Regions from separate parts of the Homo sapiens genome. Here region 2 is linked to region 1. Evidence: fine-mapped expression QTL. A gene starts in region 1. The other region holds a variant in brackets. All regions are shown on one strand. Distances are from middle to middle. Region 1 holds the start of HOXD8 (homeobox D8). Region 2 holds the start of HOXD3 (homeobox D3).

Region 1 (12,151 bases):
AAATAAGAAACACACGATGTTTCAACACAGAGATGTCTTGTATTTCTCAAAGATCTATTGGGTTTTTACCAAGACCTGCACCATATATTCTGATACCATTACCTCCCAAAACATGGATTCATTTTGTGATATAAAAGAATCCAAATTCACCTGACGGATTATCATATGCGGGAAGAGCCTATCTTGAGTTGCTTAAAAATTTCTCTAAGAACTAGAGAAACATTTAAAAATATTTAAAATTCCATCTCATACAACACAAGGCCCAATAAACCATCAACCCTAGAAATTAACCAGCATCAGTCACTAAAGCCTAGATTCAAACACCAAGCACATCCTAGAAACAGAGAATTCACCCCACCCCCACCCAAGCCCCAACCCTCAAAAAACACCTGTTAGCCTCCCAGGAACCTCTGGCCACGGCCACAGGTAAACCACAAAAACCACAGCTCTATATAAAATGCCTTTAGTGACCCCCAGCAAAGTGGAGATGTTCAGTAGTAACCCGTCTATACACTTTCCTAGGGTAGGATTGAGGGGCTCTCCATCTAGGCAGTGGGATCCTGTCTGTGGCTACCCGTATCTCAGAATTTTTGAAATAATACTGCCCCCTTAGACTTCTGAACCCAGCCGGACTCCACCCCAGGCCCCAGGGGACGCCCTAGGAACGAAGTGATTGGGGGAAGGGGCTTAGACAGCGACCCCCCACTTCCCCGGGAAATGTAGGGGAGCAGCCGGACTGAGCTGCCCAAGGGGGTCGGCGCCCCAGGCTTCTTGGTGGCATGCTGGGGAGCGGGGAGGGGGCGATTCTTACCCGAAGGCTGCCGAGCTACAGGCGGCGGTCGGTCCGGGCGTCTGCTGTAATCCACTAGGCGCTGCCCGGCTGCGCTCACTCTCGGACGCAGAGACCCGCTCATGTTGGTGAAGAAGCCGCGCCAGAACCGCGCGGCTGCAGTCACCTCGAGCAGGCCGGCTGCTCCTGGCAGGCGGTGTCGGCGCCGGCGGGGGACTCGGCGCCCAGGGCCCCTTCCAGGCCCTCCCTCGCCGGGCTCCCCACCAGCTCCGGAGGTGGCGGCGATGCGGACCGAGTGAGCGGCGGTGGGGCCAGGCCGGGCGCCGGGCGGGAGCCGAGGCCGCGGCGGACTCCGCAATCCCGCAGCCGGTGACTGGAGCCCACCTCTGCAGAGACAAAGGTTAGAAAAAGAGGGGGTGAGGCTCTGGGAAAGCAGAATGCGGGGGGAAATTCGCCGGGGAAATCAGGAAAAAGGCCGTGAAGGCGAGCGGCGCCTGCACATGACCAGCCGCAGCCAATGACGACCGCAAATAGGTCATAAAAAGGTCTATTACCAAGTTGTAAATTTTCTTCAAACAAAAAGGAATTTACTGCAATTCCTTGCGGATTTTGCACATACAGCTCGCAAGCGCCATGTTTTTTCCTCTTCTGCTTTCTCTCTCCCCCGCCTCCTCTCTTCCTTCTCCTCCTCCTCTCTCTCTCCATTCTCTCTCTCCTTCCTCCCTTCTCTTTCTCTGTCCCTCTTCACCTTTCCCTTTTTCTTCCCTTCGTGGTTCTTCCCTCCCTCCCCGCCTCCTCTGTTTCTTTTTCTAGGATTTATTTGTGTGTGTGCGTGTGTGTGTGTGTGTGTGTGTGTGTGTGTGTGTGTGTTCTTTTCTTTGGTTTGGCTCAAAACCTCTGCGCAGTTGGCCATCGTGAAGGAGGGAAATGAACTCAATGTACTGCTCACGCTCTGGGGAAGCGATCCCCACAGCTACCTCCTCCCATCTCTCACCCTGTGCTAGTCACTTGGCTTCTCCTCCTCTCCCCTCAGGAAAAGGCCTGTCCCCAGAGGCAGCCAACCACTTTCGGTTTCCCCTCCTCCCTCTCATCTTGCAAGCCAGCCCCAGTTACCTTGGGAAGAAAACGAGGGATCTGCAGGCCAAGAAAATGTGCCCCCAACACACCACTCCAACATAAATTGGGGTCCCTCCCATTCCCGGGAGGTTCTGCAGTAGGATAATCACCAACCAGCTTAAAGGCTTCAAATGGTTTTAGGTACTTGTCAACCTCTCCGAAATACCCGTTTGAAACTCTACCACCTGGTCTTTCTCCACAGAAACATCTTTCTGGACAGACAGGGTTATGGTTTCTGGATCCCTTCTGAAACTCCTTGCTCTACGTCCTCCTCTAAGAGCAATTCTCATTTTTATGGAGTTTAATTCTAGTTCTCCCCTCTCCCCTTGCCCCCAAATATTTCCCAATTGAAAAATTTGTTCAACGCAATACTGAAAAGACATTTGTTCAGGAAAAGAGTGACTTCCTCAGATCAGCCTAGAAAAAAGAATAATTCCTTTTCCTCAAAGGCCGGTGTCACATTCCCTTTATATTTTTCACAGGAACTGCTCTGGTGAACTCCCCCTGAAAGTAAATGTCCTTGGCTGGCCTCCAGCATTCCCCTCATGGGCATAGCCATGCAGCCTTCAGAACCTTCCTGAAAGAGGTAACACCACCCCCCATCCTTTTAAAGACAGTGTCTTTACACTTCCAGTACTATGTTACAAATGTTTGCATCAGATACCTGTGTATAAGTTCTCTGCTATTAACATCTGCACACCCAGTAAGTGCCTAAGTGGATGTGGACTGAAGCAGGAAGCAGCACAGCACCCTCTGGAGCAGGCCATTTGTTATCCCTTGAAAAAGTTCTGATGACCTTGGATGTTTTTGATTAAAGGACTTTTGCTGCCATCTGTCAGCAAAAGTCATATTCTTTCTAGAAAAAAGCCAATGGGCCCTAACTTTGCTGGAGGGAACCGCAGCAGCAGCCAGGGCCCATTAAAATGTTCTCTCTCCTCCCATGTCCATCCCTAGATGCCCAAGGATTCAGCAAACACGGGGGAAGCAGAGGACACAAGAAGCTTGGATGTGAAATAGCACTTCCTTCTGTGTTACAGAATAAAACAATATTTTAAATTACACAAGCAGATGGGGCAAGTTTTTGGGCCCTCAGAAGCCCAGAAGACTTCACACTAGTATACTGGTATATACATGTGGAATTGAGCAAATAACTTGTTTAATTCCAAAATTTTCTGAGAAATAATCTCAATAGTCAATTTGCCTCATTATCCTCTCCCCATCTTACCCAAATAAAAGCAGAGCTTTATGACCCTCCCTTTCAACTTGGGGAATGAGGGCCGCAAAGACACTTTGCACTGAAAAGCAGCCATATTTGCATTTTTCTCCCCTTGTGCAGAGGTAAGCGATATATTGGGCTTTGTGGAACCTCACAAAATGGCATCCTTGAACTGACTTCTCTGAAAACCACTGAGACCCACATTCTCTTTTGTGTGTTTCTGGTCATTGCAAATGGAGAGCCTAAATCACTCAGAAGGCTTGGTTCTTTCATTCAGTGTTAACATTGGAGAGAACCATTTTTCTCTAAACGGTTTACAGACCTCACTAGGCAGACTGGTGCAGTTCAGGGCTGAAAAGTGCTGCCTGGGATGGCAAAGCATTCTCTGAAGGTTTATGCAAATTTCTGCAGCAAAAAAGTGTTCGCTTGTTGCCTCAATGCTTGGATGTTGACACATTTGAGCCCATTAGAAGGGCATCTTGTGCGCAAGTCACTGCCAGTCTGTCTGCATGAAACACCATGATGGGGGGTGGGGATGTCTAGTCAGTGTAAGAAAGAAGGTGGCGAGTGTGTGTGATGTGTAATTCCCCCAGGTCTTTATTTGAACACAAATCTATGCTCTTTCCCAGCTACAAAAGGAAACATTTACCTACATGAATAATCAACACTCTGGGCGTGTGTGTAAGCTATGTATACATACAAATTCATAATCTAATATATACCAGCTATTGCAACAGTCTGTCTGTACATGAGGTATGAATTTACCATGGTTTAGGCGGCCAGTGGGGCCAGAAGTTACACTTTGAGACCAGCACAGAATGCTGAAGAAATGACAATTTTATCTCCTCTTCCTTCCTTGATTTCCGTACCCACCCATACACAGGGCTCCCACCTGACAGTCTTGCCAACATTATTTCAGGGTTCTAAAAGTATCTGGTGAGCATCCTTGAGCAGGAGACAGCCAGTTTTGCTAATATATAAAGAAGTCCTGAGTCCCTTAAATCCAGGGCAGCTGGATTTCAGCCAGCACTGGTCTTTGGATGGTTTACACTGGAGGCTGTTCCCCAGCCTCTTGGCCCTTGGCATCCTTACTCTGTACCAGCTGACAGCAGAGTCTTAAGCAGTGCACAGAGCAAAACATTCTCAAATCCAGCATAGGCATTTGCAGCTGTCTCTTGGAGTGCAAATGTTTAAGTTCTGGGCCACCTGTGATTTAAAATTATCTTTCCTGGCTCAGGTCAGAGAATGTCACAGCCATCACTTCTTCCCAGCATGGAAAGCCAGGTGGTGCTTTCCTTCTGACCTGGCCAGTGGCAACATTTCTGTGTCCATGAAGCCACAGGCAAACAGCCTGATAAAACCCGATGAGGTGACCCTGGCGCAAAACTATAGGATTCCATTTTTCTTATCTATGTAATAAAAGCAACTCTGGAAATAAAAATTTACCCCTTTGAAAATAAACATGGTTAGAGAAAGCAGAGAGCTCTTCGATGACTACCTAACAAAGGTGCTTTCCCTTTTTCGGGAATGTTACTTTACTTGAATTTCTCCTCTTTTCTCCCGCTCCTCTTCCCCCCACTTTCCCCTGTAAAATGGCAGCTGCAGGAGCAGCCTCCAATGGAAAATGGATATCTTGTTAATAACAGATGCCAAACCCCAGCATCAACGCCGGCTCAGTGCAATAAGCTGTGGTGTAACATGGACTTTGCGTTGTCCCCCACTGGGCCTACAACTTGAGTCCTTTAAGAGGATCAAAGCTCTCAGAGCATCTTAGCAAGATTATTTAGAGCAAGATAGACTAGCCAGTCCTCTCTGAAAAAGAAGGGGCCCCTGCGGCCTTTTTTTTTTTTTTTTTAAACAGCGCGGAATGTGTGTAACCCCACCCCTTTCTTATTAAACAGAAGCCTTGAGCGAGTCCTTTCCTTCGTGCGAGCCCAGGCGATTGTTAGTGATTCATGGAAAAGGGGTATTTGCGGCGCTCAAAGACACTAGCTCCAGAAAGAGATTCATTTATTTACTAAGGAGCTAGCGACATTCCGGAGTTGTTTACACTCAGGTTTTTCTGCGTTTCCTCTCAGGGCTTGTTTCAAATAGGTGAGGCTATCGCTTTCCTGAAGAACAGCGGAGGACGTACCAACCGACGTCTGAGATGCACACAGCAAGCTGGTTTAAAACCAGCGGCGAACAGAACAAAGGCAATACAAATAAATATGACACCTACTGAAAATAACGGAACACAGCGGCAGCCACCGCATAAAGAACTAGCGATTTCAGGCGATTACAAGGGCGGTTCAAAACGAAAGCAAGTTAAAAAATGAGACGCATTTTACAAGGCGATTTGCCAGAGTTGCCAGATTATTTAATTTGTATGGACTATAGAAAAATAATTGTCAACTTGGACATTGTCTTTAAATTCTTGTCACTGGCCCAATCTTTTTCTTAAGTTTAAGGAAGCTGCAGAGCTGGACTACAAGTTACATTCTTCAGCTAATACGTGCTTTTCTAATATTTTCCCCGAGATATTACATTTAGAAAATACGCAAAGAAACCTTTTAGGAGTAAACAAAACGCACCCGAACTATTCATTATAAAGGAAAGAATAAAAAATCCATAAATAATACATTGTAATCAAATAATATAAAGTATTCTGCAGACATAATTTTTTTTAATTAATAAACTCCTTTTAATTTACTCACCACAAATATTAAAATGTTCAAGTGCACTTGTTTAATTAATAAAGCATTTTATATGCAATTATTAAGTGCTAATCATTAGGAAGTTTACGTTGTTGAGGCAAATCACTAGCTCAGACATTAAAAACCATTATAAAAATATAGCTACAAGGTCAGTATCAAATTACCCTTCCATAGGACAGCTCAAGGACAGCTTCTATGTGATACTAGAAACTTTTTTAAACACCCAAATCCCTCTCAAAGCACAGAAAACCTCAAGAGCAGTGACATGAAGGTAGCTTGAAACACAGGTAAGGTCCTTTCCAACAAAGAAAATAGGTGGTGTCCACAGCATATGGTGATTATTAGTTTTAATAGTCTGTGGTAAATTTTAAAGGTAGAAGTTAATTTGTCAGGCCTTCGGCTCTGTCTTCCTCCAGCTCTTGGGCTTCCTTTTTCGTTTCCCCGTCCTTCACCTCCTGCCGGGAAACGGGAAATTTGTCCTTGTTGTTTTCCTTTTTCCATTTCATTCTCCTGTTCTGGAACCAGATTTTTACCTGTCTCTCGGTGAGGGCTAGGGCGTGGGAAACCTCGATTCTTCTTTTCCTGGTCAGATAGGGGTTAAAAAGAAATTCCTTTTCCAACTCTAGAGTTTGGAAGCGACTGTAGGTTTGTCTTCCTCTTCGTCTACCAGGAGCTGCTGATTAAAACAAAAAAAAAGGGGGGGGGAATAAAAGTTTTAAAAATGTTATGGTACCTCTGCATGTTGCTGGAGGTTTGTGGAACGGGGGTCTACGGGGTGAAATATACACAGAGCTCTTTAGCTCCGATATATATATATAGGGTGTGCAGGCAAGAGGAGCAGAGAGGTCTTCACAATTATTCTGTCCCCATCATCTTTACATGGTTCCTACTTTTTTAAAAAAAGTCTGTATTACTTTATGAATAAGAGCCACTGTGGCTACACAAGAAGGAAAAGGAGGGGGAGAGGGAACGGGAGTTTTAAAGCCAGAACGTGAGATGAAAGCAGATTTCTCCCCCTCTCCCTTCTTAAAAAAAAAATGCATCCCAACCTTGTGGTCTCATCCACGGAAACATTTGAGAAGGAGACGAGCTCTGATTTAAGTGGTCTGGGTCCTCGCCAATATTACCACTGGACGATTTACAGTCAGGATATTGTACCAGCTCGGCCTCTTGCTGGGTCGTAAAAATCGGCTGTCTCTGTAAGTTATCGTATCCGTAAAACTTCGCGGGCTCCCCGTGACAGGCAATCCCGCCGCAGGGGGGAGGTGGCGGCGGAGGCGGAGGATGCGGAGGAGGAGGGGGGGCGGCCTGGTAGGCAGCGGCCGGGCTGCCCCCGCCGGGGTGGAAGTACTCCTGGCCCCGGCCTTCCCTACCGCCGCACCCAGTCCCGGAGGGCGGCGGGGACGGGTGCGGGTGCGCGTGCGCCTGCGGGGGCGCGTGCGGGAAGCCGGCGGCGCTGTTGCCATAGAGCTGCAGGGCTGCTGCGGCGGCGGCGTGACGGCCGCCGACCTCGGGCGCGAAGTGACAGTCGTAGTAAGTGGGATTGATGGCCTCGCCCGCCGCCGCCGCCGCCGCAGCCGCCGCCTTGTACTTGGAGTACAGCGGGTTCACGAAGTACGAACTCATTGGGGCGTCAGCGGCGGCGGCCCCGGGCGGGCGGGCGGCGCTAAGCAGCCAGAGAGCGAGCCTCGACTCGGCCGCACTGCCGCGGGGGCCTGTGGGGCGGCTGCTCTCGCCGCCGGGACCGCCGGGCTACGTCGCTGCTGCCGCCCGCCCGCGCTCGCGCGTCGCTTCTGAGGCCAGGCAGCCGCGGGCGCTCAGCTACTGGGCGCTCATGCCCGGCTCTTGCGCCCGCCGCCTCGGCTTCGCGCCGCCTCCCTCGCGGGTCGCGGGGCCTCGCCCAGCCCCCGCGCGCCGCCGCCCTCCCGGCCTTTCCCGGCGCGCCCCGGCTCGGCCGCAATATAATCGCCGACGCCCCAGGCGACCTGCCCCGCTGCCTCCACTGTTTCCTCTCAGGCACCAGTGACTGAGCGCACCCGGACAAGAAAAAAGTGCGCTCGGCCCACGGGGACACTCTGGCCTCGGTTTACAAACCCCGGCTCTGGAGGGAAAAGAAAAAAAACACCCTCTGCCCGCCGCCACCTCTTACCGCGCCCCCCCCGCGCCCCCCTCCCGCCAATCTCGCCCCCGCCGCCGAGGCTGCCGACCCGGTGCGCACCGGCGAGGCATTTTCGCACCACAGCACTGCACGGAAAGTCAGCGTGACGGGGACGAGGAGCCCCGCGGAGGGATCCGCGCGCAGTTCAGTCGCTACGGCCGACGGACGGAGCGCCGCGCCCGGCCCGAGATGCCTCCGCCGGCCTTAAAGGGGGCCCATAAAGACGCACTGCCAAGGGCTCCGTGTGCCCCGGGGCCGCGGGAATGCGGATCGCAGCCGGCAGGGAGGGGCCGCGGCGGAGCCTTAGACTTGGGGGAGCCAAGGAGGCCACTCCCAGGAGGCTGCGGAGCAAATGACTGCCTCCCCGAGCCCCTGGCTGCAAAAGCAGAGGTTGCCCGTGGCTTTTGCAGCTCTGGACACGCGGGTGCAGCCCAGGGAACGTGGACAAGAGGTGTTGACGGACCGGACCGTGCATTTGAGTTGGGGCATATCGAAGTGGTTTAATTAAAAGCCGCGAGTGTGGCCCCAGATCCTGGCGTTATCAAAGCAAATCAAAGCCTTTCTTTTCCAGCCGAGCGGGCCCTGTGGAAATGAGATGTACATTTACCCTTGACGCACCGCAAGCCTGGCCGAGGCTCTCAGGTTAATTGATATTTAATGGAAATCATGCCCATGAATATAGTTTCCATCATTTCACCCTTGATAGACGTCAGCCCTGGGCGCAGGGGGAGGCTGAAGAATGCAGGAGGGGGCATTAGGCTTGCTGAGAGAGTAAATAGAAGAGCGGACAGAAACGTTCTGAGGCGGGAAAAAGGGCTCGCGCTGGGGAGGGTGACATTTCCTCGGGCAGGACGCGGCTCCCGGGTCTCAGCCCCGGCGCGCAGCGAACCAGGGCCGGCTGCGGTTCCCGGAGGAGTGCGGAGGGCAGACGACCGCAAGTTCCCCCCAGGAGCCTCCCAGCCGGCGTTCAGATCGCGCCGGTTCCAGGCAGCTGCAGGCGGCCCATCTTATGCTAACGATCCTACTTCCTCCGCCAAGCCTGTGAAATTACTGCCGAGAGAGCGCGCAGGCCTCAAAGTTACGAATTTTTCCCAAAGCAGAGAAAGAGAAGGCTCAGCCTAGTTTGTGAGCAGAGATGAAGAAAAGTTGCCCGAGTCATGTGGCCCAGTCGAGTGTGAATCGACAAAATATTCCCGATTTTAGCAGCTCTCTCCAAAGCTGTCTGGCTTTACCCTACCAACCGCCTCCCCACACACTTCCTTTCCCTCTCTGCTCCCGTTTCAATGTCCAATAAATGCAATGGTTCTCTGTTGTGTGTGTGTGTTTTCCCCTCTCCTGCTCGGCCTTTCTCGTGGGCTCTTTGGGTGACTGAGCCCCGTTTCCTTCGGGATAGGTACAATGTCGTGAGGGCGCCAGGCCCACAGCCTTGGAAATAGACCTCCAAGGCGCCCCTGCTCAAGCTAAACGCACCACGCCGGCTTTCCACACCAAATGCAAATTTCCGAAAACCCCAGACGGCCTCAGAGATGCTGCAGGCTGGCGAGCGATTTCAGCTACCCCTAGCTCCTTGTGGGTTGGCCCAGCCTGCGAGCGCGATCCTGACTTGTGTCCGGGTGGACTGAAATATCATTTTTACAAATGGAGAAAATGAGATCGAGATGGACAGACATAGCAAGGTGATAATGTCCGACTCAATTATTTCTACTGGGAATGACTGAAAGGTAAAGGAATCGTTAATGAATCTGGAGATGACAGAGGCATGCTTTATTTAATTTTTAAATTAGTAAGGAGTGCAGACTTGGGGTGGTGGAGAGCAAGGGTTTTTTTGTTGTTGTTGCTGTTTGTTTTTGTGGGGTTTTTTTTCTGCTGGTTATTGCCAAGTATAATGACTTTCTTTAAATCCGAAGGCGAACGAATTGATTCTGACAATTAAGGATTTGTCCTTCAATCTTGCAAATGCCCAATTAAAAGATTATTATTGTCAATAAAGCCTTGGAGCTACCTTTGTAATTGTGCCCCTTTTTTTCAGTTTGGCGTGTGTGTGTGTGTGTGTGTGTGTGTGTGTGTGTGTTTGAACCCTGGATAAATGAGTGGATTTTGGAATGGAATGGGGGGGGGGAAAATGAAAGAGCCTGGATCTCAACAATACCAGGCATCTTGTAGAACTGTGTGATTCCTCGGGGGAATAAAAGAAAAATGAACACTAGAAAATTCATTTATAGACATTCAGGCCAAATTTAGAAAACGTTACAACATTTCCTCTTGGGACAAAACAGTTTTTAACATTTATTTAAGCATTCCGTTTATAATATGAGTAGAAAAAGAGCGCGATTAACTTAGTAAGAAAAGATCTATGCTTTTTACAGCTTTCTGTTTTGATATAATACATTAATTTATCATGTTTTATAGTTTCAGCTGTGCCACAGTCCAAAGTTTCTGAAGCCATGATCGAGCCAAAATTTTATGCCCAGCAAACACAGAAATTAATAGTACACCTTGTTTATTTTTGGTTAAAATTATCCTAATTTCGGATTAAAAATAAGATTGTTAATATTTTTAATCAAAACCTTTCTCCGCCGCAATTCCAGCTTTACGAGATCAGAAAGTGGAGCAACAGCGCTCTCTAGTGGCCAAATGCCACCTCCAGTCCACTGAATTTAATTTTTATTCATCTCAAACCAATTCTAATCTCGTTCTTCAATTTGGGGCTTGGACTGCTGACACTAATAATGCTTCATTCCTGTGACTGTCAACAAGTCAAGAGCAGCAAGCAGGAGCTCCTGTATGCCTAGGATATTCTAATCAGTGCTCCCAACAGCTTCCAGTAGTGTCTTTTCCAAAAGCTTCCAGCCCTTCTTTTGCCAGACACCAAAAGTCCCCATGCTGTAACCGCCCAGCTGTGCCTTTTAAAACAATTATAGGACAGGCTAGATTTAACAAAACCTACAACTTTCTAAATATCAACTGCCAAGAGGCTTTTTATTTTCCAGAGGAACCAGACACTTTGGCAACCAAGAAATTACAGAAATCAAGTATTGTTATGTTTTTGTTTTTCTCTTACAGCTGTTACTTTTAGGATTAAATCATGAATATTTGCTACTTTAACACTGTAACTTTAATGCTTTGGGGCCCACTTAGGTGGCCGATTTTGGGGGGAATCGAAGCCAAATCAAAAGCTTTTTGCTGGATCTCTGAGTGGCTGTCTGGAAAGTCCCTTTGCGCTTCTGTTTGTTGGAATTTCTATGGACAATAAATGGGATTTTAAAAATATATATCAAAAGTCATTGAACTAAGCATTCCACTAGAATTTTTTTTAAAAGCAATGACTATTCAATTGGCTTAAGTGTTTCCTGTTAGGTTAATCTTTTTACTCATCTTCAAAACTGCTTTCCTCCAGTTTAGGTGTAACAATTGTATTTTTTTATAAGTGAATAGACATAAATTTCAACAACATTTTGCTTCAAAGTTTGGAGTGGAGGGCCAGAGATTCTTGTGAATAGGCATCTAACTTCATCTTTTCCCGCGAACCACACTTCTGGGAGACTCTCACCTGGGTAAATGACCTAAGATCACTAACCACCCTATCCCCAGATAACAGGCCAATTTTTTTGTTTGTTTGTTTCTAAAGAACCAGCTAAACCGTGGTCATAGTCAAAATATTGTAAAATGCCATCTCCTTAGGCTACTTCCATTACCTGGTTCATTTCAAAAATCAGAAATTCATTCACCTCTTCCTTCCTACCTCTTTCATGTTTACTTCCTAGGTGCTCACACCTCACCTGGGGGCTCCCATGCCCCTGCCTTCTTGGTCCAACGCAGTCTTGTTTATATTTTATTGTCTAGATTTTAAGACCCAGTTTTGTCTGCATTTTTCCTTTTCTCCCACAAACACAAACATCAAAATGAGATGGTTTCAAAGCAAAGCACTGGGCCTGTCGTAAACTCATTACCTCCAGACGTCTGGCCCGCTAGATGGCTTTATGACACCTCGGCTCTTCCTGTTTTCAAAGAGCCCTAGGTACCCAGCTGGCCACAGTGGCAGGGGTGCGCAGCACCTTCTGCCGGATCTGGGCCTTCCTTGGCTTTCCCTCCCAGCCCCCCTATGCTTTTTCTTCGCGTCCCCTCTTTCATTGGGATCCCCCAAGATCTCTGCCACCGCCCCCACCTTCCACCCA
Region 2 (12,151 bases), 28 kb before region 1:
TCCCTCTTAAAACAAAACCTGAGAATATAGTTACAAAACTGGTAAAAAGGCTTATTTCTTTTCAGAAATCCCTACTCCTTGTGAACTCTGCTTGAACCTAAAAAGCAGGAACGGGTCATAAATCACTTGGACAATGGTCAACTGTTCAGTGGCTCATCTTTTCGATCACCCCCTCACCCTTTTTTTAAAGCCTTTCTTTTCTCGCCCTTTGGTACCTTTGCTCATTTGGGCTCCAAGACCCAAATGTCTTGGGGTGAAGATGAGCCAGTGTTGGGGGAGGGGTGGTCGAGCACGGCTTCTCATTTCTTCCAAGTCCTCAGCTGCCCTTTCCTCTCCCTCCTCCTCTCCTCCACCCTCTAGCCCGGGGAACTGGCCAGGGCAGCCTCCCCAAACTCCGCCGGCGCCATCCCCTGCTCCTCCTGGGAAAGGGGTGCCAAATAGGTCTGGCTCGCCCTTTCTTGCGGTGCTGGGAAGTTGCCCAACTCAGCTTGGAGGCCCAACCGCAGGCCCGGAATACAGGGCCAAACGGTCTCCTGCCGGAAGGAAGGTATTCTCTGAGCGGCCACCGCCCGCTTCCCCGGGCCCGCCGGCCCGCCGCAACCGCTGCGCCTCCAAAGCAGCCGAACCCTGATACTTGCTCACCGCACTTAATGCTACTAGAGATCAATACCTAATATGATACCAAATAAATAAAAGGCGCTCACAGCGACCAGGGGACGGGGTTATTAAGCAGCTGGAGCTCTCACGGTGCATATCAATGCACCTGTCATTGTGGTTTGTAGCAAAATTTATGACTGCGACCACGGCGGCAGTAAACGCTTCGGTAAGGAATGAAAAGAAAAACACTTCCCAAGGCCCGGCACTTTTCAGCAGTGGAAAGCAGGCTCCGCGTAGGAGGCAGCGCAGCAAAAGAATTCCCTACTCCGCACTTTTCCCGCTCTTGCACCCTGCGAGCAGCAGGATTATATAAAGTGACCGGCGCCTGCTTCTGCTAGCAGCTCTGCTCGGCGGTCGGAGGCGGGACGAACGCGCGCAGCCTCGCTGGGGACCAAAAATCTGCTGCCCGTGGTGGCCTCGGACGCCGGGAGGCTAGTCCGACTTGCGGAGGCCGGCTCGGCACTTGCTTGTACGCCGGTGGCAGTGGAAAAGCTGAGGGGGCTTGGGAAGGGAGGGGACACCAGGCGCCAGGCTGTGACTAGCGCTGCAATCGTCGTAAATCACCGACGGGTAGAGTCAGCCCATCCAAGTTGAAAGAGAGGGGGAAGGCGATGGAGGTTGCGGTCAGTTTCTCTCAAAATCCGCTAGTGCTCGAGCTGGTCTCGGCGCCTCCCCCTGTTTTGCCTAAACCAGGGTCAGAAGCCCACGGATCTCTTTCTGGCGGCCAAGACTTTTGCTGAGCATCCCCACGAATTCACTGGAACCGAGCAACGATTCTCCCTTTCCTGTTGGCTTTGCTACTTCGGGATTCGAAACCACTGGTTTTTGGGTTTGCTCGAAAGGAGACTTCTTTACGTTCCGCCCAAGTTCTCCCGATCTCTAAGCTTGAGCCTCTTTTGCTCTATAAGAAGACCTGGACGCGCCTTCTAAATCACTCTTATTTAGCCCAGATAACTCAATACTGTAATGCACCCTGTATTTAAGGCACTGGGCTTGCCCCATTAAAGCGCCATAAATTTGAAGGCCAATGATCGGTTTTCATGTAACGGGTGGTACTTCATACTGAAGTGACCCACTTCAAAGCTGCCCTTTGTTCTATGTCTTGATGTATGAATTTTGAGATGGCCACCTTGAGTTGCAGAGGGAAATGTACTGGAAATTATTATTTAAATGATGCCCACTCACCACAATTATGTATGTGTGTGTTTTCTTGAATTTTGTCTTTATCTCTTTTTTTTTTGTAGGCTCTTCAGGTTTCTTTTGATATCTGTGGAGGCGAATCTGGAACAAAATGGAAAACTCTCAGTAGCAGCCGGTTCTTGCTTACAAACACTTACATGTTGAAGGGCTTTTCCCACTTGAAGGACGTCATAGTCAATGTGACTATTGTATATGGTACCCGTGACCATCCAGACGCCTTCTCCCCGGCAAAACACAGACTCAGTTGGCTCCTGGGGAGCGAGGGCCCCTTTAACGCCAAAATCCATGGCTGGATGGGGGAGGGGAGAGCCCGGACGTGAGGGAAGCGCCAGACCCTCTAGCCAGGTGGGTCAGAGGTGCAGGGAAGCCAATCTGCTCTCCTCCTGCCCCTACCAAATTCTAAATGCTCCTCCAGGTCCCAATCCCGGAAGCCAAACACTCTCCTAGGGGCAGAAGAGAGAGACCGTGCAGAATTAAGGTGGGGGTTTGGCAGGGGAGGCTGCAGAAAAGGGCACCAGGAAAGGAAGGTAAATAGGCTTGGGTGGATCTTGGTCAGGGGCTGCTCTACAGAGCCTCAGTGAAGAGGACCTGGGCGCTAGTTCCTGATTTATACATTAAATATATCAGATGCTTTCCCTGAGTTTATTCATTCCGGTAAGTATCCACCACACTCTTGGCCCTGGGCTGCCCACTTCTGGGTCAGGATCAGACTGCAAATCGCCTAAGAAACAAACATCCTTTCCACCCCCACCCAAAGCCACAGACCAAGCTCCCCCACCACTGTCACCGCTCAGCGGGTGACCACCCCCCGTCAGGTGAAAGGAGAGAGACAGAGTCCCCCTCTTGCATCTGCCCTGTGCAATTTGTCGACTCAGTAGTTTGCGAGCACTAAACTACACCCGGGAAAGCCTCACACAAAGCGTTCCCGGCGCTTCTAAAGACTAAAGCGCGCAGCCATAAGCCTTTGAAGTGACCTTTGGCTCGCACCGCAATAACTCACCCCTTAATGAACACCCAACAGAAGCGCCTCGAAGAGATCCCAGCCCGGTAGGGCTCCTAACTTCGCGCTGCGGCTTCAGCTTCCCAGCCGGCCTGGACCCAGGGGGAAAAGCCACTTGCCCGCCCCCCTCCCCCAAGCGCTCTTGGCTGGGCCGGGACCTGAGGGTGGTGCGGTGGAGGCCCGAGGTACCAGGGCTCTCAAGCCAGCTGGTCCTGTAGCTGCTTTATATAATACATTCACGTGGGCGGACGTCAACTTTCGCCGCTTGATTATTTTTTATTTATTTATTTTTAAAAAAGAGTTCTTTAGAAGTAGGAGCATCCCCTCAAAAGAAGAGCTAAGTTGGGAGGTCACCCGGGGCCGCCACCCCCTTATGCCTCTAGCTAGATTTTTCTTTTTCCAGCCGCGGAGGAACAGGGTAAGTTTGCGCCTGGGGGTTCCGGGGTGCGCGGTGCGCTTTGAGCTCTTGGCGTAAGAGGCTTGGGAAGAAGAAAGGAAAGAGGACCCCAAGTTAACCAAAGTTGGACCACCAGAAAAGCCTTCAGCACCTTCTCCCACGCTCCCTACCCTGCCCACCCACCATCCCACGCGGGTCCAACTTTGGCTCCTTGTTTGCCCAGATTCTCAGCCTTAACCGGGCTGGCTTTGGACCACCAGCACTGGTGCTCTTTCTGGAGCCAAAAACGGGAAGAGCAGGAAGGAGCTGCGTCCGTGAGCTGTCAAGGAAGAGCTGAGTCCAGGCAGCCCCAACCCTACACCTCATCCCTCAGCAGCACCCTAGGAAAACTCTTTAGGATAGGGCCAGCGTGGAGCCTTGGTAGGGATTATTGAAATTTTCGGGGGAAGTTATAAGTGAATGCTCCATGGGGCCAAATGAAATGCTACTCGCGGTAATTGGATTCAGCTGACTAAGCTGGCAGGCGCGCAGCTTCAAGGCAGCTAGCAAAGAAAAATGTCCAGCGACTTTCAGTTCTGATGAAGCCAAGCGCAGGAGATTGACAAAACAACTTTACTGCTCTCTTATGATGGCGAAGCCCCTGGAAGTCGGTTCCTCTCCTGCTAGGGCCTGTCCCAACCTAAGCTAAGGGAATGCTCCTTGCTTTTGAGGTTCTTTCCCCATAAAGGTCCGGTTGGGTCTGGCCCAGTGGCATTACCACGAGCATGGAACCACTCACTGGAGCTCCTGGAGCTGCTCACTCCATCCCTGGCACGGAAAGACCCGGGATGGGTTGTCTTCTCCTCTCCCAGCCAGTAGCCACAGGGAGCAAGTAAACAAAAGGAGAGATGGGATTCGTGAACCAATATATGATTTAGCTTTCATTCAGGGTTCTTTGGGGAGAAGGACCTAGAAACACTAAACCTTTTCTCTGCCACTACGGCAATCAAAAGCCTGGATTGGTAAAGGGAAATGTGGAGGAACCTCCCAAACTCTTCTGGGTAGTTTGGAGGTTCTCTCAAATTTTGGGAGGAAAAGCTCAGTAGCGTTTTAATCTCCCAAGAAAAAATTAAGCCAACAGCAAGAGGTAAAGGCTGTGTGTGGAGCTCGCTACCGGAACAATGCAGGGAGCTGGCTGACCACCGAGTTTATTTTAAATACATATAAATCAACCCGCCTGCACCCAGCCCGGCAGCTCAAGACACAGAATTAATATGACGCTCCATCTTACTTTGGCAGTAAAGTGTAAAAAAGTTTTAATTTCTTTTTCAGCCCATTCTCCTAAGTGCACATTTAGCCCCCAAATATTTCCTCCAGCACTCAATCCCCTCACCAGATCCCCTCCTTAAACTGCTACTACCACCCCCAATGCTGCCGGCCACCCTCCAAGCCTGGCAAGGTAGTGTCCTCCTAACCCTTTGGTAGGCGGGGAACGTCCCCACAAAGCGCGCCTTGTTACGATTAATCACCGTCCTCCATGTATATGTAGCAGTGTATCTAGGTCTACGCGGGCTGCCTCACCAATTGGCAATAATCAAGATCACAGATTACACAAAATAAATCATATTTAATATCCCGCTCAGGGCGGCAAGCAGCCCCGTGCCCAAAGATTTCCATTTTGTCATGCAATTGCTTACCTGGATCCCAATTTATCATAAACCTGGTGTCCTCGGCCTCAGAGTGGGCGCCAGTGGGGGGCAGAGCTAGCCTTCCCCCTTTGTCTGCAGACAACACTGTCCCAACCCTGGTCTTGCGCGCTCGCAGACACGGCCATATACTCGAGCACACGGAATTCCCGGTAGAACGGAACCAGGCTGAGGTTCAACTACCAATAAACGCAGGAGGAACGAGTTCGTAGTCCCCGAGCTGGCTTCGCCTGCGCTGCGCGCCCATCGGTCCACCCGCCCGCCCGTCCGCTCTCGGGCCCAGAGCGGCAGCCACCCGCGCCCCCACCCACTCCTGGGTTTCTGCCCAGCCCTCCCAGGCCCCCCAGAGCTTGGGATTTGTTTTGCTTGCGGAACGTGGTCGTTTCTGGATTTGGAGAGAGCCCCGGAAACCCCCTCATAGTCGGGAAATACAGACGCTGCCTTCAAATGCAAGCATATTTGTTCACGTGACCCCGAGGGAAGCTTGTACTGATTGAGGCTGAAACTTTCACGCCACCCAGTCCCGGAGCGCAGCCAAGCCTGGGGGCTGGAAGGAAGGGCGCAGGAGGCTTGGGACCTGGGCCCCATTCCTGGGGCAGACGCGGATGGGTGTGGGGCGGAAGGAAAGAACACATTTTCGCAGCTCCGGGCCGACTCAGTCTTGGCCTGGCCGCCCTCAGTGGGTTGGGGGCGTTGAGAGTCTCTCCCCACAACGACCTCTGACCCTGGCTGGGCCTTCCGCCAGACTGGTCCGGGAGCTGGAAATTTTAGAAACTGCCTCTCTTAGAAGCGTCTCTGGAGACTGCCGTGGAGCAGCAGAGGCTGAGGGTACCCCTAGCTTCCCGGGCCCGCGGAGTACTCCGCAGCCTCATGCACCCCGGCAAGGCGGCCTCCCCGCCGCGGAGGCCGACGCCCAGCTCCTCCCAGGGCGAGGACCCGCTCCGGCCCAAAGGTGGAAGCCGCGACTCTCAGCTCTGGCCAGTCACCTCAGAAAACCCCGCCACCACCACCATTCCGTGGCTCGTTCCGCGGACTCAGCAGCCGAGTCACCGCCACTTCTGAGACAGAAAAGGCGCGTAGCAGGCGACCCGGACCCAGAGCGACCTCCCCTCTCTGATCCCTGAGCACCCCAACCTGGTCCTTCGAGGCCTGGAGCCGCCTAGGCGCTGAGCCACTGCCCGCCGTGATCTGTGCGACTCCAGGTCTGGGCAGGACCCGCAGATCCCACAGGCCCAGCAACCGCCAAGCCGCGACTTCCCGCTTCCTGCGGCGCCTCCAGGAAGGCGAGGAGGACTGCGCAATGAGTCCTGGCTGGGCTAACCTGGGGGACAATGAAACTTATATTTTAGAAATATTAAACCAAGACAGATTCCCACCACTCTCCGAGTGGCTGGTGGGAATGATTCTGCAATGTGGGAAAAAAGAATTAAGCGTGCCAGCGCCAGCAGCGGACCTCCTGGCCTGTAATGAGCGCCCAAGACCCTCCCCCAGCCGGGGCCACACTCGGGAATCCCGCACCACGGGGAACTCTCCACCCTGTCCCCGAAGTTTTGGTTTCGTTGCCAGCTCTGCTCAGCGGCATCAGGCACAGTGAAATGCTCTGTTGCTGATTGCAGGGTCTGAGACCGGTGAAAGTGCCCAGCAGCCATAGAAGAGCCCCAGAGGAGTGGGTAAGGTCCACCGCATCCCCACTCCAGAGGCGCAGGAATGTCCTGGAGGCCCGAGCCCCCAGAACCGTCTACGAGCCCATCCTTTTGTTCACCTGGCCGGGCCTGGCCAGAGGCCCACTCGGGGCGTCTCTCGAAGCCGGATCGTGGGTGACCCCAGCCCACCCCCACCCGGAGGACCCCGCCCCCTAGCCTCTTGCCAGAGGCCGACCTGACGGCCAGCAGCAAGTGTTAATCCCCAGCCAAAGAGGGGGGCTGCTTTGCGGGAATTTGTCTCCAGGAAAGGATCTAAGCCTTCTTCAATCGGAGCATATGTTCATAGAGCAATAAACCGGAAAGATTTACAGTCCTCGCCCGGCCCCCAACAGTCTCGCACCCTTTCAGGAATTACTTACGATGATTTATCACACCAACCCGGGCAATTGTCACACTGATAAAATAGCCCGGGCCAGTGCCCGCCAAGCCGGGGCCTTGGGAGGCTGTTGGCTGCCGGGCTGCCAGCAGGGCTGGGGAAGCTTTTTGTGGGTTCCTCTCTGGGCCTACAAGGGGATATCTAGGTGGGTTGGAGTGGGTTGGAGTGGGGGGGGTGGGAGGGGAGACGATTCTCATTGAGAAAAATGCAAGCAGCTCAGAGAAAGCGCCTGGAATCTGCGCCCGAGTCACTCGCAAAGCACATAAACATTTGTCATCTTTGAATAATTGAATTAATGTGTTATTGTTTGAATGTATAATTCATAATGGGGGAAACTTTGTTTCTGTCCTGACGGGGAAATATACACACACCAAAAAATAAATGAAAACACACACACACACAAACACACACGCACACATAATCCCAAAACAACCACCACGCGCAGCCAGCCCCTGCTCGCTGAAATCATTCTGAAAGCCAATGGAGGTATCTCACAGCAACAAGAGGGAAGGAGGCGAATGAAGAGGCGCCCGGGTCGGAGCTGCAAGCTGGAAGAAAAGAATGCTCGCTACTGCCCCAGCCCACGACCCTGGCAAGCTGGGGATGGGGTGGAACGGAGCGGAGTGGCTCTTAGGACACCCAATTTTCTTGGAGTGCCGGTGAAAAAAGGCAGAAACGGGAGCGAGCAGAGAAACAGCCTTCTGCAGCCC[G/T]CACTGGCCTCTCCCCCATCCTCCTTTCCCCAGGCTTCCCGTCGCCCCGGGGTCTCCCACTCGGGCTGCAGGGACTTCTTCTCGCGTTTATTTTAGCTCTTCCAAAATAGAAATAAAAAATACAAACACAAAAATAAACGGGAAAGAAGAAGAAACTCGCTGGGGTGACAGAGGCAGCAGAACTTGGGTGGGGAGAGAGGAGCGGGGGGAGAGGCAACTCGGAAATCATTATCTGTTGGTTAAAACCTGCCTGGGGTAAAATTTCAACTCGATTTTATAGCCTTCTATTATGACGCAAAGAAAAATTTACGACCCTCGCTTGAAAAGAGGGCCAGGGCCTTTTCTCACCGGTTTAAGAATAGGCGGCAGATGCCGTGACAGCGACCATTGTTCCTGGTAGACACAGGCGACCAGGCAACCTCGGCCCGCGTGCGCCAGGCGCGTCCGCCAGCCGGGCCGGTTTTTTACAACTCCTGTTGTCTTGGAGCAGCCCGCGTGCACCTCGCCCCTCACCCCTCGCCCCCTGGCACCCTAGCGCCTCGCACACACACCCTCTCCCTATCTCTGTCTCTGTCTCTGTCTCTCCCTCTCTCACACACACAAGCGCGCGCGCGGACGCACGCACACACACACACACTCGGCCGCTCTCAGTAATTTTTCATAAGTGCAAAGCTTTGCTGAACCAAAGGTCACCATCCAAGCCACTAACAACTTCTCGCCGGCGCGCAGTTCCAAATCAGGAAGCAAAGGGAACTATTTGTCAGCGGCCGTGACAGCTAAGTTCATTAAGGATTTAAATCTGATGAAATAAAAGTTGCCAAAATATTTACCTGCGGCCGCGCTCCCGCGCCCGCCGGGGGCCGGGGGTGGAGGGCCGGGGGCACCGCGCGGCCCCCCTGGACGGGTGATATTCTTGGGATCCCTGCACTTTCCAAGTCGGAGAGAGCCCTTTGCGTGGCAGATTAATGACGACTCCGTGTTTCTTAAGGGACGTGCTGAATTAATTATTTCGCCAATCACGTGGTCGGGACTTGTAGAAATCTATTCTTATCATCTTCCTCGCACTTAGAAAATTCTCCGGGTTATGAAAGGCCCTCCCCCGGCTGCCAGCGAGCCCCGGCCGCCCAGCCCGGCGCGGGGGGCAGGGAGGGCTCCCCAACATGGCGGGCAGGCGGGCGGGAAGCGCCGTCCGCCGAGGGTCCCGATTTACTGTACTCTATACTCAGCGGGCTCTGCTATGGACTCGCTTCCTCCTCATCCCTGCCCGCGATTCAATACACACAACGGTATTGATGTATTGGTGGGCACGGGAGGAGCCATTAAGCAGAAGACGGGCAGAGGACAATCATAAAATGTGTCTGAATATTTAAACTTCTGCCTGCGCACTTATAAATACACATGTCCACGCGTCTGGGGCAAGCCCTTCCATATATTAAGGACAGATGTCTGATTTTATGCATTCTGCTCATTTCCTGTCTGGAACAAGCACCCCCATCTATTTTGGGACTCCTGTCTTGGCCCCTTCTTCAAGGCGAGGCCAAGATGTAAAGAAGCCCTTGCGGTAAATGTAGTGCAGGGCACTTTTTATAGTGGGGAGTGTTTATTGTTGCCTGAGGGGTGGAGGGGGCGCGGAAGAAGGAGGGGCAGGTGCTGGAGTCCCCACAGGAGCTTAACAGTACTGGAAAAGTAGAAGCCCAAGAGTGGAGGCCCGGGGGTCAGGTCAGAGCAGCCACCCAGGAGCCTCAGCTCGGCCCAGAACCCAGCACGCTCTCCCTGCCTTAGGGGTGGGGGACCAGTAAGGTGTCTCATCCACCACTTCCCAAAGACTTCCTCTGAGGGCTTCCAGACCAAAAAGGTCTGGGGCCTGGCCCGGGCCCAGCAGAATGCCAACCTGGATCCCCCTATTAACCTGGGCAATTACTTTTTCTTCAAAAAATTAACACCCAACACTCTGTACCCTGAATTCAACCCCAGGCTTCCCAATGCTCACAAAATATGGTGGCCAACTGGGAGTGTGTGTACATTAAGGAGGTGGTAATAATAGAATTGCTAAGCCTTACATGGTTTAACCTTCACACTTTAGGCACCCCCCAAAAAATGGTGCCTAATTTATTGCAGAAAATAATAACTTGTTTATGTTAAATGTTAGCTTTTAGAAGACTTAACAAAGGATGAATGCTTCTGTTAAGGCACCAAACAGGAGGGAGATTTTGCTACACCTTTTATTATTTTAAATATAGATCAATGAATTACATCAAAACTACAAGCAACAATTAGTATAAATAATACTTTAATCAGTGGCAGCAAAACATTGGTCAATTCTATTAAAAAAGCATCTCGTGTGAACAGACATCATGGGCTGACTGACAGTGTCATCTCCCAACAAAAGGCTGCGATGGACAAAGTGAGATGGGAGTCAGAGGAGCAATGTCCTCAGCAAACACTTCACTCTCCCCCTCCCCCAGTCAGGACCCCAACACGGTTTTTGTTTTTGTTTTTAAAACACCAACACAAACACTTCTGGCTCATATTTAAAGGAACAAACTGGAAACAAATAATAGCAAATGGGCATTGGAGCTTTTCCACACCTAGCTTTCTCCAAAGCACGTTCTCAGATGGAAACCCATTTCCTTCCCTGCCCTAAGTGGTTACGGGGCCCTACCCCTTCCCTGGCCCACTCCTGTGGGCCCAAATGGATGCTGGGGTCCGACTGGGACCTCAGGGTTGGGGGCTGCACTCTGGGCCATCCAGGCTCCATTAACATTTCAAAAGAATCCCTCCAAGCTGAGAAGGAGAGCTGAGACTTATAAACAAAGAAGTTGTTTCTCTGATTAAGTTACTTTCCAAAGTAGTGGGGCTATGTTTGAGAAGGAGCTTGGGTTTTCCTCATGAAAACATGTTTCTTGGCTTTCCTCTGGGGCAGGGATGCAGTCAGTTAAGCCTGTGTGGCATTTGGTATGAAACTGGGGGTGAGTAACCTGAACTTCTGAGGTGGGGGAAAATCTATACAACAAATCTCTATTATATATATGTAATTGGATGTTGTGAAAATATATACCTTTTTCCCCTTCTCAAAGAGAAGGTTCAATGTATAGACAGATTTGGGTTTTAGGAAAGCAGCTTAGCAACTTTCCAACTTGCCTAAGGATAGCGGCTCCTTTCAAATGGTACATCCAAAGACTGCTCTCCATGTTAGAGAGGAAAAAAGAAGAGAAGGGTAGTTAGAGTCCAAAAGGTTAGGGGTTTAGAGGTCAGTCCTCCCGGCTGAAATACAGCTAATCAAATAGAAAATTTGTCCTCTGGATGAACCTGATTCTGTAATTTACCCGAACTTCGGTAAAATACCTTTTCAGCTTCTCAACGTGAGGGCGTCAGAAAAAAGACGTCTTGACTATGTATGAACTCTGTGCTTTTTGTCATAGAAACAATGATGTGAATAATGCACGAATATCCATCTTTAATATCCCGACGTGGTGACATTCAAGTATTGCCATGTGCAAGTCTGAGAGCCAGGCTCACCCCAAGGAGAAACAAAGAGCAGTCCCCAGGGTCTAATACAAAAGACCAAGGCTTGGAAGACACTTCAGAGAAGCGGAATTTCAGCCTAGGGACTGCAGTGAATACCTGCCCTCAGCTCTCAGGAGACACAGCCAAAGAACAAGCCTACAGAGAAACTCTTTTTTCCCTCCCACTTAAATATATTTTTTAAATTACAACAGAAACCTTCTAAAGTGTTTTTGAAGTACTGAAAAAAATACCCCCCTTCTGGATCTTAAAATTAAATTTTAAGCTTATCCTTTCTCCCTTTCCCACTTTGGTCACTTTTTGATAGCTACAACCTTTTTTGGAGCCTGAGGCCTTGGGAAGACTGGTTTCATCTGAGTATATGAACTCTGGCCATTAACTTTGACTTCTTCCTCCTTATGCTTGAGGGTCAGCATTTTAGAAAAATGAACTTTGAACCCTTCCCAGGAGAGGCAGAAGAAAAACGACTAGAGGACATCTCCCCTGTTGAGAGTGATTCTTTAAAAAACCACTATTCTCAAGGCAAAGACGAGTGCTTGAAAACTTTTATACTTTTACAAATTCTGCTTCTAATTAATGAGCTGAGGAAAACTTCCTTAGATTTGGTTTTTAAAAAAATTAAAACTTCAGGGGGAAAAAAACTCTAAGGCTAACTTTTGTGGACTTCTAGATTCAATTAGGGTTTTTTTTTTTTCCTTCTTAAAGCAAGAGTTCCTCACCTTCCCACTTTCTCCCCACTGCACAGCCCCTCCCCTACACAGGCCATACACTAATTCCTGTAAAACACTGCTATATGAGGGTATTTAGGGCATTTGGAATCCAGTTGGAACAGAAAATTCAGTCATTATCTAATGACCCAGTGCATAGAGGTTTTGTTTTCTTTCCCCAGAAGGAAAAT

The links. PIP is the estimated chance that this variant, and not a neighbour inherited with it, causes the effect.
Region 2: its variant is fine-mapped to the expression of HOXD8 in testis (GTEx, PIP 0.95).

The regions. Positions count from the first base shown.
Region 1 is chr2:176,125,660-176,137,810 of GRCh38, reverse strand. It overlaps HOXD8 (homeobox D8), which reads right to left and starts at 8,106. Exons shown (of 2, transcript NM_019558.4): 1 at 6,868-8,106; 2 at 5,116-6,494. The coding sequence starts at 7,444. The coding sequence ends at 6,199. LOC100129455 (a long non-coding RNA gene) reads left to right here and starts at 7,283. Exons shown (of 1, transcript NR_187615.1): 1 at 7,283-9,986. HOXD-AS2 (HOXD cluster antisense RNA 2) reads left to right here and starts at 713. Exons shown (of 3, transcript NR_038435.1): 1 at 713-1,190; 2 at 2,389-2,492; 3 at 2,861-2,970. It overlaps LOC401021 (a long non-coding RNA gene), which reads right to left and starts at 1,199. Exons shown (of 2, transcript NR_148241.1): 1 at 812-1,199.
Region 2 is chr2:176,153,860-176,166,010 of GRCh38, reverse strand. It overlaps HOXD3 (homeobox D3), which reads right to left and starts at 8,704. Exons shown (of 4, transcript NM_006898.5): 1 at 8,559-8,704; 2 at 1,843-1,938. RefSeq lists an enhancer at 10,241-10,744. The variant G/T (reference allele first, on the strand shown) is at 7,729.